Homo sapiens: one gene and its partner. The protein of the gene in region 2 purifies or fractionates together with the protein of the main gene of each other region. This does not show direct contact. Each region holds a gene or a part of one and is shown on either strand. Other genes may lie near its edges.

Region 1 (7,029 bases), on a different chromosome or scaffold from region 2:
GAAATTCATATGTTTGCATCTAAAAATAAAGTTTTGTTGGAACACAGCTACGTTCATGTGTTTTTGGATTGTCTTTCGGTGCTTTTGCTTTAAAACGGCAATTGAGTAACTGGGACAGAGATTGGCCCACAAAACCCAAAATATTTACCATCTGGCTCTTCATAGAACGTGTTTGCCAACCTCAGGTCTGGAACAGCACTGTCCAGTGTGGCAGCCAGTAGTCACATGTAGCAATTTAACTTTAAAATAACTTGCAGTGAAAGGATATAAAGCAAAATCATAAAAGGAAAGGGAGCATGGGGTGAAGTCCGGCGGAAACCAGGTCCCAAGAGTTCTCTTCCCAGGGAGTGTAAATTTCTCCAACAGCTAGTCATAACAATGTGTGAAGTTGTATCTACCCGGGGAACTCATTAGAGACTCAGTGCCCACAGTTTTTATTGGGGGCTGGTCACTTATTCACCCTCTGCCTAACAGGTACCAAAATTCCAGACTCCTAGAATGAAAGCAGATGTTTGGCATGAACTGTATTTGTACAAACAGTTTGGGCACAGTGAGCCAATTACGCATATCAATGGGGGGAACTGTTTACCAGTCAAGTACCAAGACCAAATTGATCACAGGGTTGGTCACTCAAAGACCAACTTCCATTATCATAAAAAATTCTGTTAGACAGTGCTGGTGTAAAGAACAGTGATTCATAGCTGTTTTTAAGTTATAGCCCCCTTTGAGATTATGAGTTTTGGATTTTTCACTCTCGGTTTTAGGCATATATATATATAGATGTAATATTTTCATATAGTTTAAGGAGTTCACTAGTTTAGAAGAAAGAACATAAGTGTTTAAAATATGTGCTTTTTAATTTTTGCCCCAGCCACCGTATGATTACGGTCAAATATGTTTTGTATTTTGGTTTAGATGGTATACTAGAGCTTAAAAGCTTGAGATCTGGTATCAGACAGATTTTATTAGAATCTGTAACCAACCATTCAACTAGTTGTTTGGCCTTGAGCAAATTACTTAACATCTCTAAGCTTCAGTTTCCTTATCTTTAAAAGGGTGGTAATAACATTATCTACCTTATAGAAATATGATAAAAAGTATAATAAATGAGATAATGCACATAAGGCGCTTAGCATGATGCACAGAATTTAGTCATTACTCAGTAGTGGTTCTTACTTGTAACTTGTTTCTTACCTCTCCTTCATTAACTTTTTCCCCTTCTCTTACTTCAGAAGTAATTTTGAGTCACTTTTACTGTGTTGTCTTAGTTGATGCTGTTGATGAACAGCTGGCTATTTGGAACCTAAGCCTAGATGGTTCATGAATTATATTGTTTAATATTTTGTGATGTTTTCTTAAATTTAAAATGCTCCTTTAATTTTTCCACTATGTATACAGTACAGCTTTTAAAAATGGAACAGTCTTTTTTAAAGGTCTTAGTTATGCAATATAATTCCTAGATGGTTTTACTGCTATTCATTTATCTAATGAACTTTAGACAAAATCTTTTACTTTTGTTGATGTTAACAAGGTCTTTTTCTTCCTATAGCTGTGCCTTTGGCTGCAACAAGTATGTTGATTACTCAAGGATTAATTAGTAAAGGTAAATATTTAAAATTTGAATTTATTTAGCATTTTGGATACCATGTTTGTTTTGTGGTATTTTCCAGGTCTTTAGAAAAAGTAAAGATAACAATGTATCATATTAAACACTATGTAGAAATTCATTGATGAATTTAAACGTTTTATCTCTGTGGACCCACTGGCTCAAATATCATGACTTGAGAATTTCTCCTGCACTAATAGCATCATTAACAATCTGCAAGAGCAAGAAGGTAACTAAACACCAGTATTAGCAGGGCAAACCTGGTCTAGGTGGGCCAATAGCAACATTATTGCCTAGGAGCTTGTTAGAATGCACATTCATGGGGACCAGGAGTCTGTGTTTTAACAAATTCGAAGTGATTCTTATATAATGATTTAAAGATCAGTAGCTCTCTAAACCAGCTTTGTCTGATCACCTGGGGCGGATGAGTGGCGGTGAGTTAGCATTATTTAAAAAATCAGAATCTCAGGGGTCTGGCAGGTGATCTATTTTTAACGAGCCACCGAGGAGACTTTCTTGTCCTAAAGTCTATTGGCTCAAATAGTACAGTAGTGGAATTGAGTTTAGATTGAGTATTAAATGTCTTGAGTCCTGCATTTAAAATGTAGTGGAGTAAGCAGTAGAGTTGCTTAATTCCTTTACTTCATGAACTATCTATCTGGTAATGGGAAGGTGTCCCAGAAAAGGATGGTGACCTTAGGATGGCCTGGAGGCCTATTGTTTTAATTAACTGGCTCCTTCAAAAATGTGACTTAATGATTGGAAGATTTAGCCTTTTCACATTAGGATATGATGTATGGTACTTAGTTTTGACACAATTAGTTGATAAAAGTAGTTTTGGAGGCAAATGAGAGGATTTTTGGGGTAAAAATTTATTTAAGGAACTTCTGAAGAACTTCATTACAATACAGTACCATGACAAAAATCTTAAACATAGAAGCGAGTCAAGATGTATGCACTTATATGTCCTTAAGACTAAGCTGTTTTATAGACTGAGATTGGTTCTGTATTGTGAAACAACAACAACAACAACAACAAAACAAAAAAAACCCCACTTGAATTACATTCTTTGTAGGAAAAACTGGCACAGGGATGAAATTACAGTGTTTATTATTGTTCTGCTTCTTTTATCTATTTTAATCCAGTGTGTCATTTAATAATGATTGGAGCTAGGTATGCAGAAGGTTACACAAAAGAATTTAATAGCTGCTAGTAGTTCACTGGAGGAAACAAATGGATGTGAACATATGTTGAAGCAAATAGAAAATTTAATTACATACTTAATAAGCTACTAAATTGTATAGTAGAGACTCTAAGAGTTGTAGGTGTTCAAAGAAGAAAGATCTTTGTAGGGCTGTTGTAATCAAGGAAAGTTTCTTGAAAGAAGTGGGTTTTGAAGGATGGGCAGGATTTAGATTAAATGAGAAGAAAGAACATACCAGGAAGGAGGGACCTGATGATGAAGACAAATAGGCATAACTATTGGGAGAGGCAATCAGGACTGAACTGAAGAGACAAAATCATGCAGGGAGGAGTGAAAAATCCATTAAATAGCTGAAGTAGAGCCAGGAGAAATTATAATTTGGATTAGGTTATGAAGAGGAGGAAGTTTTTTAGAGATTTTGGGTTTAGGTGCAGTTGAAGACTTTGGGCTACTTGAGGGTACGGTAGAAGTGATATTGGGAGGCCGAGTCGGGTGCATCACAAGGTTAGGAAATCGAGACCGTCCTGGCCAACATGATAAAACCCCATCTCTACTAAAAATACAAAAAAATTAGCCGGGCGTGGTCGTGCGTGCCTGTAGTCCCAGCTACTCAGGAGACTGAGGCAGGAGAATCGCTTGAACCCAGGTGGCGGAGGCTGCAGTGAGCTGAGATGGCGCCACTGCACTCTAGCCTGGGCAACAGAGCGAGACTCTGTCTCAAAAAAAAGGTAAAAATTGAGAGAGACTTTAAGAAAAGAATTTGGAATCCACCAAGACATTTTGCATTTAATCAAAATCCCTGACATTTTGTACAGTGGTCCTTTTGTGTCTGTGTGGATTGGTTCCAGGACCCTCCAGAGGATACCAAAATCCACAAAAGCTTAAGTCTCTGATATAAAACGGCCTAGTAAAGTTTACGTGCATATCTGCCTGTATACTGTAAATCATCTCTAGATTACTTATAATACCTAAGACTATGTAAACACTATGTAAATAGTTGTTATACTGTATTGTTTAGGGAATAATGACAAGAAACAAGTCTGTACATGTTTAGTATAGATGCAGTTTTTTTTTTCCTAAATATTTTCTATCCGCAGTTGGTTGCAGAACATGTACATATGGAGGGCTGCCTGTATCCCCTTTCATCCACAGTGTGTCATACTCCACGTGGTCTTAGATGTTCCTTCTGTTTCTTCCTGATCTGCCAAAACCATTTAAACATGCTCAGGTCTCCTCTAACTTGAGAACATTAAAAAGAAAAAAAAATCCTCCCTCATTTGTTTTTCCAGCTACTCCCAACTGCCTCATATTTGAAGCCAGAGGCAGACTTCATGAATGAGCCCTTCACTTTTTACTTCGTTTAACCCATTGCAGTCAGTGTGAGACTATCCATATGTTCTACCATTTATTGGAACTTTTCAAAAGTTCAAAAACAAACTTTTCAAAAACAACCTGTTTGTTGCTTAAATATAATGGACAGTTTTTGTTCTTGACCAACGTTACATAACTTTAACCAGTTTTTCTTGAAATAGTCTATTCTCTTGGCTTCCATGATGGCATATTCCTAAGATTTTTCTCCTACCTCAGGCGATTCCTCTGTTTCATGTTTTTTGAGTGTCTGATATGTACTATACATTGTTATATAGCACTAAACAACAAAAATTCATTAACTCTTGGTGCTTACATTCTTGTATGGGTTTTTTTGTCTAGTTGTTTGGGAAATGTTGGTGTTACTATATTTTGGATATAATATATAATATGTATGGCCCTTCTATAGGCTCCTCAAACAGAACTCAACCATTTTCCACAAAACCAATTCCTCCTTTCCCTTCATGACTGAGTGGTGTTAGTACTATCCAGGAAACTGGGACATTATCCTTCACATCTATCCCTTATCTGCCTTGTCCAATTAATGTCTTTTAGCTCTTAAATGTCTTTATTAACTATCTACCTCCATCTGTACTGCCAGCATAATTAATGCAACCATATGTCACAAAGAGTATTGCGTTAACCTTCAACAAATCTGTTTGTTTCCATTCTTGCTACTTCTCCTTAGGAAAATAAGCTATTTCTAGCACCTGACAGAGGACATACATAGTGCACATAGTACTCAAATATTTGAGGGGATGAATAGCAACCATGACACTATTATCTTTGTCTTAACTCTCTCTCTAGACTGTAAATTCCATGAGAGTAAAGAGTGTGTCCTGTTTCCTGTTAATATCCAGTATGTAGTACCTTTATGTTGTAAGTGGTCTATAACTAGTTGGTGACAGTATGAAGGAACAACTTTTTAATGTAAAAATAGAGATGTTCTTACCATCTTCCTTTTTCTATTGTCATCCCAGTTCTTATAAATGAAGGAACTGAGGCTAAAGGCACAGATTAGTTGTCTGTTTTTGTACTTTAATTACATGAAATCATACACTGAAATATTCTTTTATGTAAGTTCTTTCAACATGGTGAGATTCATCCAGTAGCATGCTGGAACTGGTTTGTACTGGCTCCTGAGAATTGGTTGTTAAATTTTCGGGAACTTTGGCAAGCTGGTTTTTAAAGTGTTGGTAGTTGGCCGGGTACGGTGGCTCATGCCGGTAATCCCAGCACTTTGGGAGGCTGAGGCAGGCGGATCATGAGGTCAGGTGATTGAGACCATCCTGGCCAATATGGTGAAACCCTGTCTCTACTAAAAATACAAAAAATTAACTGGGCATGGTGGTGTGCACCTGTAGTCCCAGCTACTTGGGAGGCTGAGGCAGGAGAATTGCTTGAACCCAGGAGGCGAAGGTTGCAGTGAGCTGAGATGGCGCCACTGCACTCCAGCCTGGGGACAGAGCGAGACTCGTCTCAAAAAAAAAAAAAAAAGAATTGGTAGCTTTACACCATGGAAACTGACAAACATTAAAATTAGAGCTTTTTATAGGGAGTGCTGGTTTACCAGCACATCATTGCACTTAACCACATTGTTGCATGTAGTTGCCCTATAGTTTTCCTCTGTGTGAATACACCAGTTTATCTATCTGAACTGTGCATTGATAATTGGTAGTTTTCAATTTTCACTGTTACAATTAGTTTTGCCAAGAATATGGTGCCTTTTTGATAGACATTTTGCTGGGTCATAGATTTTGTATATATTTATTTAGCTTTAGTAGATATTACCAAACTATTTAGACCAATGTATACTCCTACATTCTCACCAACACTAGCTATTTTTATGTCTTTTATGTTTTAGCCATTGTGGTAAATAAACACTAATATTGATTGCATTGTGGCTTGAATTTGTATTTCCCTGTAACCAATGAAGTTGAAGACCTTTCCATTTGTTTATACTTCATTTCAGCATATCTTTTTCTGTGAAGTATCTGTTTAAGTCTGTTAACCATTTTTCCATTGTATTGTCTTTTTTCCTATTGGTTTTGTGAGACTTCTCTGTATACTTTGGAATTGAGTCTTTTGTCAGATATAGATATGGTGATTATTTTTTCCCCACTCTGTTTAACTGTAGTTTTCAGTGTTAATAGAGTCCAATTTATCAGGTTTCTTCTTTCTAATAGGTGCTTTTTGTTGACTCTTTAAGATCTTCGTCTACTCTAAGGACACAAAGATGGTCTCATGCTTTCTTCTGTAAAATTTTTTAAAAAAATCTTTCATATTTAAATTTTTAAGCCATCTGGATTATTGTTCGATGTAGGATCAAGGTACATTTTCCCCTGTTAATGGATATTAATTGACCCAGCACTATATTTGAAAGGACTATGCTGCAGTGTTGTCTTTGTCATAAATCAAGTGTGCAGGTGTGGATCTGTTTCTGGACTCTTAGTTTTGGTCAGTTTGCCTATTCTTGTACTTAATACCAGACTGTCTTAATTACTACAGCTTTATCATGTAGATTTTGCTATCTGGTGGTAGTCAGTTCTATAATACGATTCTTCAGTGTTGCCTTGGCCCTTTGTGTTCCACATGACTCTTAGAATAAGCTTTTCAATTTTTGTAAAACTTTGATTTTAATTGGGATTGCATTGTATTTATAGGTGAAGTTATGGAGAATTGCCATCTTTAGAATATTGGGTCTTTCAATTCTCAGTAAGTTTTATAACTTGTCAGTGTAGAGATCTTTCATATCTTTCATTAGATTTGTTCCTGGGTTTTGAGCGTTTTTTTTTTTGGTGCTATAATTAATTCTGTCTTCTAAAAAATGTTTGTTTTTTTGTTTGTTGTT
Region 2 (7,566 bases):
GGCTGCCCCAGGGAAAACTGCCATTGCACTGTCAGCTCCCTCCAGCCCTCTCTCAGGTCCCAGCAGGAGCAGATTTCTGACTAAGCTCAGAGGTCTCAACAAATGGCAGGTTGAACATCAGAGGAGTTATTAATAGGCCTATAGTTACCTCAAGACTCCACCTTACCAGGGCCAAAAATGAGTCCTGGGAGGGCAGCCAGAAAGAAAGTAGGGCAGAGAGGAAACACAGGGAGAGGGGCCCTGGGACCACGTCAGATATGGAGGGAACCAGGGGAACGAGAGCAGCCCTGATGATTGTACTCCCCACAGCCCCTGCATGCCTGTGAACCCTGAGAATTCAGGGTGAGGAGCTCACTCTTGCCTTTCACCTGTTCCTGGGCTCTGGCAGGCTGGCCTGCTTCCTGCCCCAGCCTCACCCACTCTCCGCACTCCTCGCCACTGATGTGGGCAGCTGATCTCTCCGGTTTGCTGGGCTCTCACCCTCTGCCCAATGGCACCAAGTTAACTTCTTCGCATGCTTTATTTTCTGTGATTAAAAAGGGAAACAATTCTCACTAACGCCATTTCTCAGAGGAGAAAACAGGCACAGGGATGTTCTATGACTTCCTCACGATCACCAAGCTACAAGGGGGAGCTGGGCTTTGAATGGAGGTCTACCCATGCTCCTAAAGTTGAGGCGTCCTCCAAGGAAAGGACAGCACCTATAAAAGCTCAATGAATGGGGCGGCAGTGTCACCACTAAGCCCGACCACGCTGCTACTCTGATATCCAACTTCCAGCCTCCAGAACAGGGAGAAATACAGTTCTGTTTTTGATGAGCTCCCCAGGCCGTTACAGCTCTTTCTTTGCTGTAACAGCCTGAACTAGCCCAGAAGTGCTATTCCATCATCTGTGTCATATTCCATCATTCAGAAGGGAGTCACTAACCCCTCAGTGCTGTCTCTGTGGACGCTGCCCACCCTAGGCTGAGATGAGGCACAGGGTCTGGGTCTAAATAAAATGGGAAGGCACTGGAAGGTGCAATGTCATAGGAGGAGGATGTCTGAATTTCATTTAATCTCAACCTCTACTGGTGCAGCATGAAAGATGAGGCCCAGAGCAAAAGTGTCTTTTCCCGAGATCACACTGTGGACCCCAGGCCCACTGGAGTTGCATTAGACGTTACCTCTCACCCCTTCTTGTATTTGTTCCATTTCTAAGTGTGTGCAATATCCACAGGGAACACCACACCATGAGTTTTTAAATATTTATCTCAAACATAACCTCATGAGTTCCCTAGGAAAGAGATGCTAGCATAACCCCCATTGTGCATGCTGGGGAGACCCCAAAACACCAAAGGAGTTCTCTAGGGTCTCACAACTGCTAAAATAAAGGCTGTTTGACCCAGCACTGTCTCCTCAAACCTGGGACCCTGGTTATATCCAGGTCTTCCCAAGGTGCTGAAGGGGCACACTTTTTCATAATGGTGACTACGTAAGGAGTTGACGGGGGAGGGTGAGCGGTCAGAAGCCCAGAGGGGCCTTTGAGTAGGACTTATGGAAAGGAGGAGCTTACAGGATGGAACCTACAAGATGTGACCTCACTTCCTTGCCGACAGACCCCCAACAGAACTTACAATTCTGGTAACTAGGCACCCACATTCTAGAGACAGCCCCATTTCCAGCTCACTTCGTAGGCGATGCTCGAGAGAACAACATGTTCTCCTGCTGTATCCCGACATGCTGCCGACCTCCTCGTCGCACAAGAGGCCAAAATGAGAGTCTTTCCCGAGAATATAGACATTGGTTCAACCCTCACCCTCGACGCCTCTGGCCCTTTGCCAGAAGGCACCCACAGGTAACACAGGGCCCAGGGCAGGCCCATCCAGGCTAGGCCTCAGCTGTGCCCATCAGGGCAGCCTCAGGCCCCTCCCCACTTGTTTGGGGGAAACAGGAGATGAGGGGCCCTCCCTGGATAGGAGCAGGTAGGTTGTCAGGTGTTTGGAGCCTGGTAGGTATGTCAGGTTCACAGCCCAGGCAGTGCCTGGCAGGATGGGAAGGTGAGTGTCAAGGACACAGTTTGTCTGCTCAGATCTGAATCCCAAGTCCTCAAGCTGTCATCTGCCGGAGACCTCAGGCTTCTCTGGCTGGAGGTCTATGCAGATGCTCCTATGTGCCAAATCCTGTTGGGGAAGGGGGTGCCAGGGATGAGTTCTAATGGGGGTGTCCCACTGTGGGGTCAGCCAGACAGGCCACTGACACCTCTTGGCCCGGCTCTCGGGCACTCTCTTTGCAGAGCTCCACACAACAGACCAAACAAGAGCTGTTGGATGGATTCAATTTCTCCATATTCTTCAAAGGGCACGTGCACCACACCACCAACCACGTCCAGTGCCGGTCTGCGGTGAGATTGGGCACAGAAGGGTCTCCACAGACAGGACTTGTGAAAACCAAGGTGGGCCCAGGACTCAGACACGAATATGGGGACTCCCTAAGCTCCATCCTAGGGCGTTCCCACTTGAGTGACCCACTGTCCTCTCCCAAAGGAATCTGGCTGCCATTAGTCCCCAGTGGCAACTTGGTTACAGGCAAAGTCCCTTTCACCTATCAGAGGAAGACCAGAGAAAATCCTTCTGTTTTCACTTTAGGCTATGCCAGGAGTATCTCGGCATGTTGCTTTAAGAATTGAGTACAATGGTAACATTGCAGCAAAATACTCACACTGTTATCATTTTAACTCCCCACCCTAAGTGGATCTCCGGCAACAGGCAGGCAGCTCCGCTGCCCTGCCAGACCTCCTCCAGGACTTAAAATCCAACACTTTTGCACAAACAAGGGGTGGGGGTGGGGGGGGTGCATTGATTACAACAAAAGAAGGTGAAGCGACTCTATGCATTAGTCTTTAAAGTGTCATCTCACAGAACTCATCCCTGCAGCCCCATCAGGCAGGAGTTGTACCCTCGCATGTCATTGTAACATTCCTTAAGGGAGGCCATTTTCCACAGCGGGTCAGCCTCTCAGTGCTGGTGGAGCCTGTCATGATAAAATTCCCTTTCGAGGCAGCCTTTCTACAAGGAGCATAATCCTATGCGTGTCCTAATAGGCTGGAGCAGTTTGCCAGGGCTGCCATAACACGGCACCCTGACTGAAGGGCTTAACCACAGAAATCTGGTTCCTCACAATTCTGGAGACTGGAAGTCCAACGTCAAACTGTCAGCCTGGGGTGGTTTCTCTGGGCCTCTCTCCTTGCCTTGGAGATGGCGGACTTCTATCTCAGTCAGCACAGGGTCTTCTCTTGAACTTCTCTGTGCGCTGACCCCCTCTCCTTGTAAGAACCCCAGGCATGTTAAATTAGGGGCCACCCTAATGAACTCACTTCACCTGAATTACCTCTTGGAGTACTCTGTGTCCAGACACAGTCACATTCTGAGTCTCTGGGGTTGAGAATAGAAACAGTTACATTTGGGGAAGGGGACACAATTCAACCCATAAAATAAACAAATCCCCTGCAGCAGACAGACACCCAGGAAAGGGATATCTGGGTGAAAGGATATGCAGATATCAACTTTCAACAGCTCTAGCTAGTTGACTTTCCAAAAGGGCTCCAGCTGGTCACACGGTCACCAGCAGCCTCTGAAGGTAGCTGCTTCTCTGAACGCAGCCTCCCCTGAATACTAACACGCTTTTAACTTTTCGCCAACCTGCTGTCTGTGTGGCAGAGAAAATCCTTGTTTCATTTCCACTTTCAAACATACATTTGCGTAACCTTTCACGGGTTCAATACCTGCCTGCGTTTTCCCCAAGTCGCCTCGCAGATCCTGGGCCTTGGGACGCGCTTCCTCCCACCCTGGAGTCTTCCGGCATTTTCCCCTTGGCCAGGGCTGGGATGGCCGTAGCTGTTTCTCCAGACTCACGTTCATGTTAAAGGAACAAAAACAATCATATACCTTTAAGTCAAAGAGTTCTTCTAGAGCGTATTGTCCTGTGTGCTGTTGCTGAAATGAGGAGGGGATGAGGCCTCCCCAGGCCTTGAGGACTTGCAGGGATGATGCTCTTCATGCAGGTTGCTGACACAGAGGGTGCTGTTGCCCCACAGCTGACAAACACCGGGACGATGCCTTGAAGGCAGGAATCGTTTTATCATTCTCCATCCTCACATGCAATGTTACTTTGAAAGCCTAGAACGCTTTTCACCATGGGCACCCAGGTTCTCCATATGCACAAGTCCCTGAAGGGTTGGTGCTTCTTGGTGTGAGTTCCAGATCCCGATCCTCTGGTGGTCCATGGTGTTACCACTGACTCCCATGTCCCTCCTTGTCCCCCTAGTATGAAAATGAGATCTGCAGGATGCTAACTTTCCAGCCCGGCACTGGGGAGAAGCTGTTGGGAGTCCCTGGTTCCAGCCTTTCTAACTAAACCCATCTCCTCCTATGCCACCTGCCTGGGCCCCTCCTGGGACTTTATCACTGTGCCACACTTTTTGGAACTACTGGTTAGAAGGTGAGTGTCCATCCCCCTCCAAGACACAGAGGTGCCTCTGTCCCCTACTGGCTCTGTCTTGAAGATGCACCTCTCGGAGCCTCGGTTGGCTCCTCTGGAACAGGGAGTAGTGAGAAGACGAACCTCACAGGGTTCTTGTAGGGACTCAATGATCTAAGACACAGCAAACAAAGGGGTCCCTAGAGCCTAAAACTCTGGAAAATCTGCTGGGGGTGCTGTGATTCATGTTTGTTACTTTTCTCTTCCCCCTCACTTGAAGCAGCTCTCAGCATTCTGCCTCAATGGCCTGTATCACTCACTGTTTGGAAAAACACATAGAAACCAAGTCTGCGATGGCACTGGTAAAGGATGTCTGAGATTCCTTCTGGCTGGTCTTTCTCCTTGACACAGACAGAAGAGGGGTCCCTTGGTGCTGAAAAAGGAGCCACAGGCCCACTCAGACATCTGGAGAGGCTCACTGGGGTTCTCCAAAGGTTGGGGTTCACTCATTCAACACATACATTCAAAACACCTCATTTGTGCATCGCTCTTCTTGGGGCTTGGCATAATTTCATAAACAAAGCAGATGACAATCCCCCGGCCTTGATTCTACTCAGAGTCAGGCACTCACAGTAGACAGAATAAACAAGTCATATCTACAGAATGTTACAGGTGAGACCCTCATGGCCTCCTCTACGTATGGTGGCATCCTCCCAGATTCTGACTAGAATGACGCAGCCCAGCAACAAATATAAACTGGGTGGATTTAGGGTTCTGAAGGGCCTTTTCACCCACAAAACATGGGGGAAAATATGTGGACTCTGGCTGGGGAGAGACTAAAGGAGCTCTGGGGCTCATACTTCTTATAATTCCCACGAGAAGGCTGACATCTGGGGACTTCCCCCACAAGAGGCAAATAGTGAGTTCTGTAAATGGAGACTTAGGTCCCCTGCAAAGCAGAGGGGAGGCTGGGGTCACAGCTGGCCACTGAGAGACCCATCCCCCTCAGCACCGTGGCTTCCCAGCTCTCCCTGTCCTCCTCCCCCCGACATCTGCCCCTTCCCTCCTAACCCCAGGACCAGGGGACCCAGATCTGGAGCTTTGATGAGGAAGCTGCTCACAAATCTGCCTGCAGCTGCAGTCTTGAGTGCCCAGGTGTACAGTGCTGTGCTCCAGGGCCTTTGGGAAGAGAATGTCTGTGGGACGCCAGGGCGCACGAGGGTCTGTACAGCCCTGCTGTATGGCCAGGTCTGCCCCTTCCAGGACAGCACTGATGGCTTACGGTAGGGTGGGGCTGTCCTCCACACTGGCAGCAACAGGCCAGGGACCCAGAACCACGCAGGGGTGCCCTGGAGGGTTGTGTGGGAGAAGGCCAGGCCTCTGACTCAGCTGTCTACTCCATCACCAGCACCATCACCTCCATTTTGTTCAACTGGCCCCCCGAAAACACTTCAGTTTACTATCAGCCCCCGCAACGGTCATCTTTCCGGATAAAGCTGGCCTTCAGGAACCTCTCCTGGCCTGGACTGGGCTTGGAGGACCATCAGGAAATTGTCCTAGGCCAGTTGGTGCTTCCGGAGCCCAACGAGGCCAAGCCAGATGGTGAGGGGGCTTGCAGTCTGCAAGACTTTCCGGGGGTGGTGTTTTGGGGCTACAATTCCCTTAAATTCCACCCGGTCATTTCTGTGCTTGGAAAACCCAGTGAAAAATGACTGGTGTGGTGACCTTTTCTCCTTTTCCAGATCCTGCTCCACGTCCTGGGCAACACGCATTAACAATGCCGGCCCTGGAGCCAGCACCACCACTGCTGGCGGACCTGGGGCCTGCTCTGGAGCCAGAGTCACCTGCAGCCCTGGGTCCACCAGGATATCTACATTCAGCACCAGGGCCAGCACCAGCACCAGGGGAAGGGCCCCCTCCAGGGACAGTGCTGGAGCCACAGTCAGCCCCAGAGTCCTCCTGTCCCTGTCGTGGGTCTGTAAAGAACCAACCCAGTGAGGAGCTGCCTGACATGACGACCTTCCCTCCCAGGCTGCTGGCAGAGCAGCTGACCCTCATGGATGCGGTGAGCAGCTGAGCTTTGCAGGCTGTGTCTCTGGCACCAGCTGTCTCAGACCAGCCTCTCCCTGAGGAGCAGCCAATGCCCTCGGTCCAATTTCAGCCCCACTTCTTACCAACCGTGGGATCTGGATGAGTTTCCTCACCCACAAGCCTTCCCTGTCTGCATGTGGACGGCAGAGATGGGACATCACCAGCGCCAGCTGCACAGAGTGACTGTGCAGACTGAGTGACAGGAGATGGACAGAAAGCAGGGCAGGGCAGGTGCTCACTGTGGGGCAGGCAGGGCCATGGGTCACTCACCCAGCTGCTCAGGAGCCTCACTACCCTCAGCACTTATTAGGTACCTGATGCATACTGGATTCTATGGTAGACACCCAAACAGAGCCCATAGTTGCAGCTGCCACAAGGAAAGTGCACCGGTACGGAGAGGAGTAGTAGAGGGCTGATTGGGATGGGAGGAAGACGAGGCCTCAGGATGGGCAGGCCTGAGCCACCTTCTAGTTCTTAGAGTGTGGATGGCCTGGGAGAAAATGTCACTCTCTCTTCCCACCCTTGTTGGGTTCTAGGCCATGATGCATTCAGGTCCCTCGGGGGCAGAAAACCAAACCCAGGGACTCCCACAAGTCTGGAGCCCATTTTAAAGCTTTCTGAGCTCCAGCTTGGTTCCTGCCAGAGACCGTGGATGACTGTGAGCTCAGTCCCTGCCTGGGACTGTGGGTGACTCTGAGCTGCAGTGTGCTGTGTCCGTGACACTCTCCTCCTCCCCCAAAGGAGCTGTTCAAGAAGGTGGTGCTCCACGAATGCTTGGGCTGCATCTGGGGCCAAGGACATCTGAAGGGGAATGAGCACATGGCACCCACAGTTCGTGCCACCATCGCACACTTCAACAGGCTCACCAACTGCATCACCACCTCCTGCCTCGGGGACCACAGCATGAGGGCCCGGGACAGGGCCAGGGTGGTGGAGCACTGGATCAAGGTGGCCAGGGTAAGCTATGGTTGGGCCTGGGGATTCCCTCTTTAAAAATGGGGAACTTCCTCTTCTCCTC

What was found. Proteins that work in one complex are often made in the same cells at the same time.
Region 1: the proteins of RGL4 (region 2) and OCIAD1 purify together in Homo sapiens (affinity purification with mass spectrometry; 3 studies listed by BioGRID and IntAct, with this or other methods). This does not show direct contact.

What each region holds. Positions count from the first base shown.
Region 1 is NC_000004.12:48,841,087-48,848,115, forward strand, and holds part of OCIAD1 (OCIA domain-containing protein 1), read left to right. Parts: intron 1-1,549; coding exon 1,550-1,603; intron 1,604-7,029. UniProt on the Homo sapiens protein: Maintains stem cell potency. Increases STAT3 phosphorylation and controls ERK phosphorylation. May act as a scaffold, increasing STAT3 recruitment onto endosomes. Involved in integrin-mediated cancer cell adhesion and colony formation in ovarian cancer.
Region 2 is NC_000022.11:23,686,470-23,694,035, forward strand, and holds the start of RGL4 (ral-GDS-related protein), read left to right. Parts: upstream 1-4,543; 5' UTR 4,544-5,561; coding exon 5,562-5,740; intron 5,741-5,865; coding exon 5,866-6,059; intron 6,060-6,199; coding exon 6,200-6,522; intron 6,523-7,289; coding exon 7,290-7,505; intron 7,506-7,566.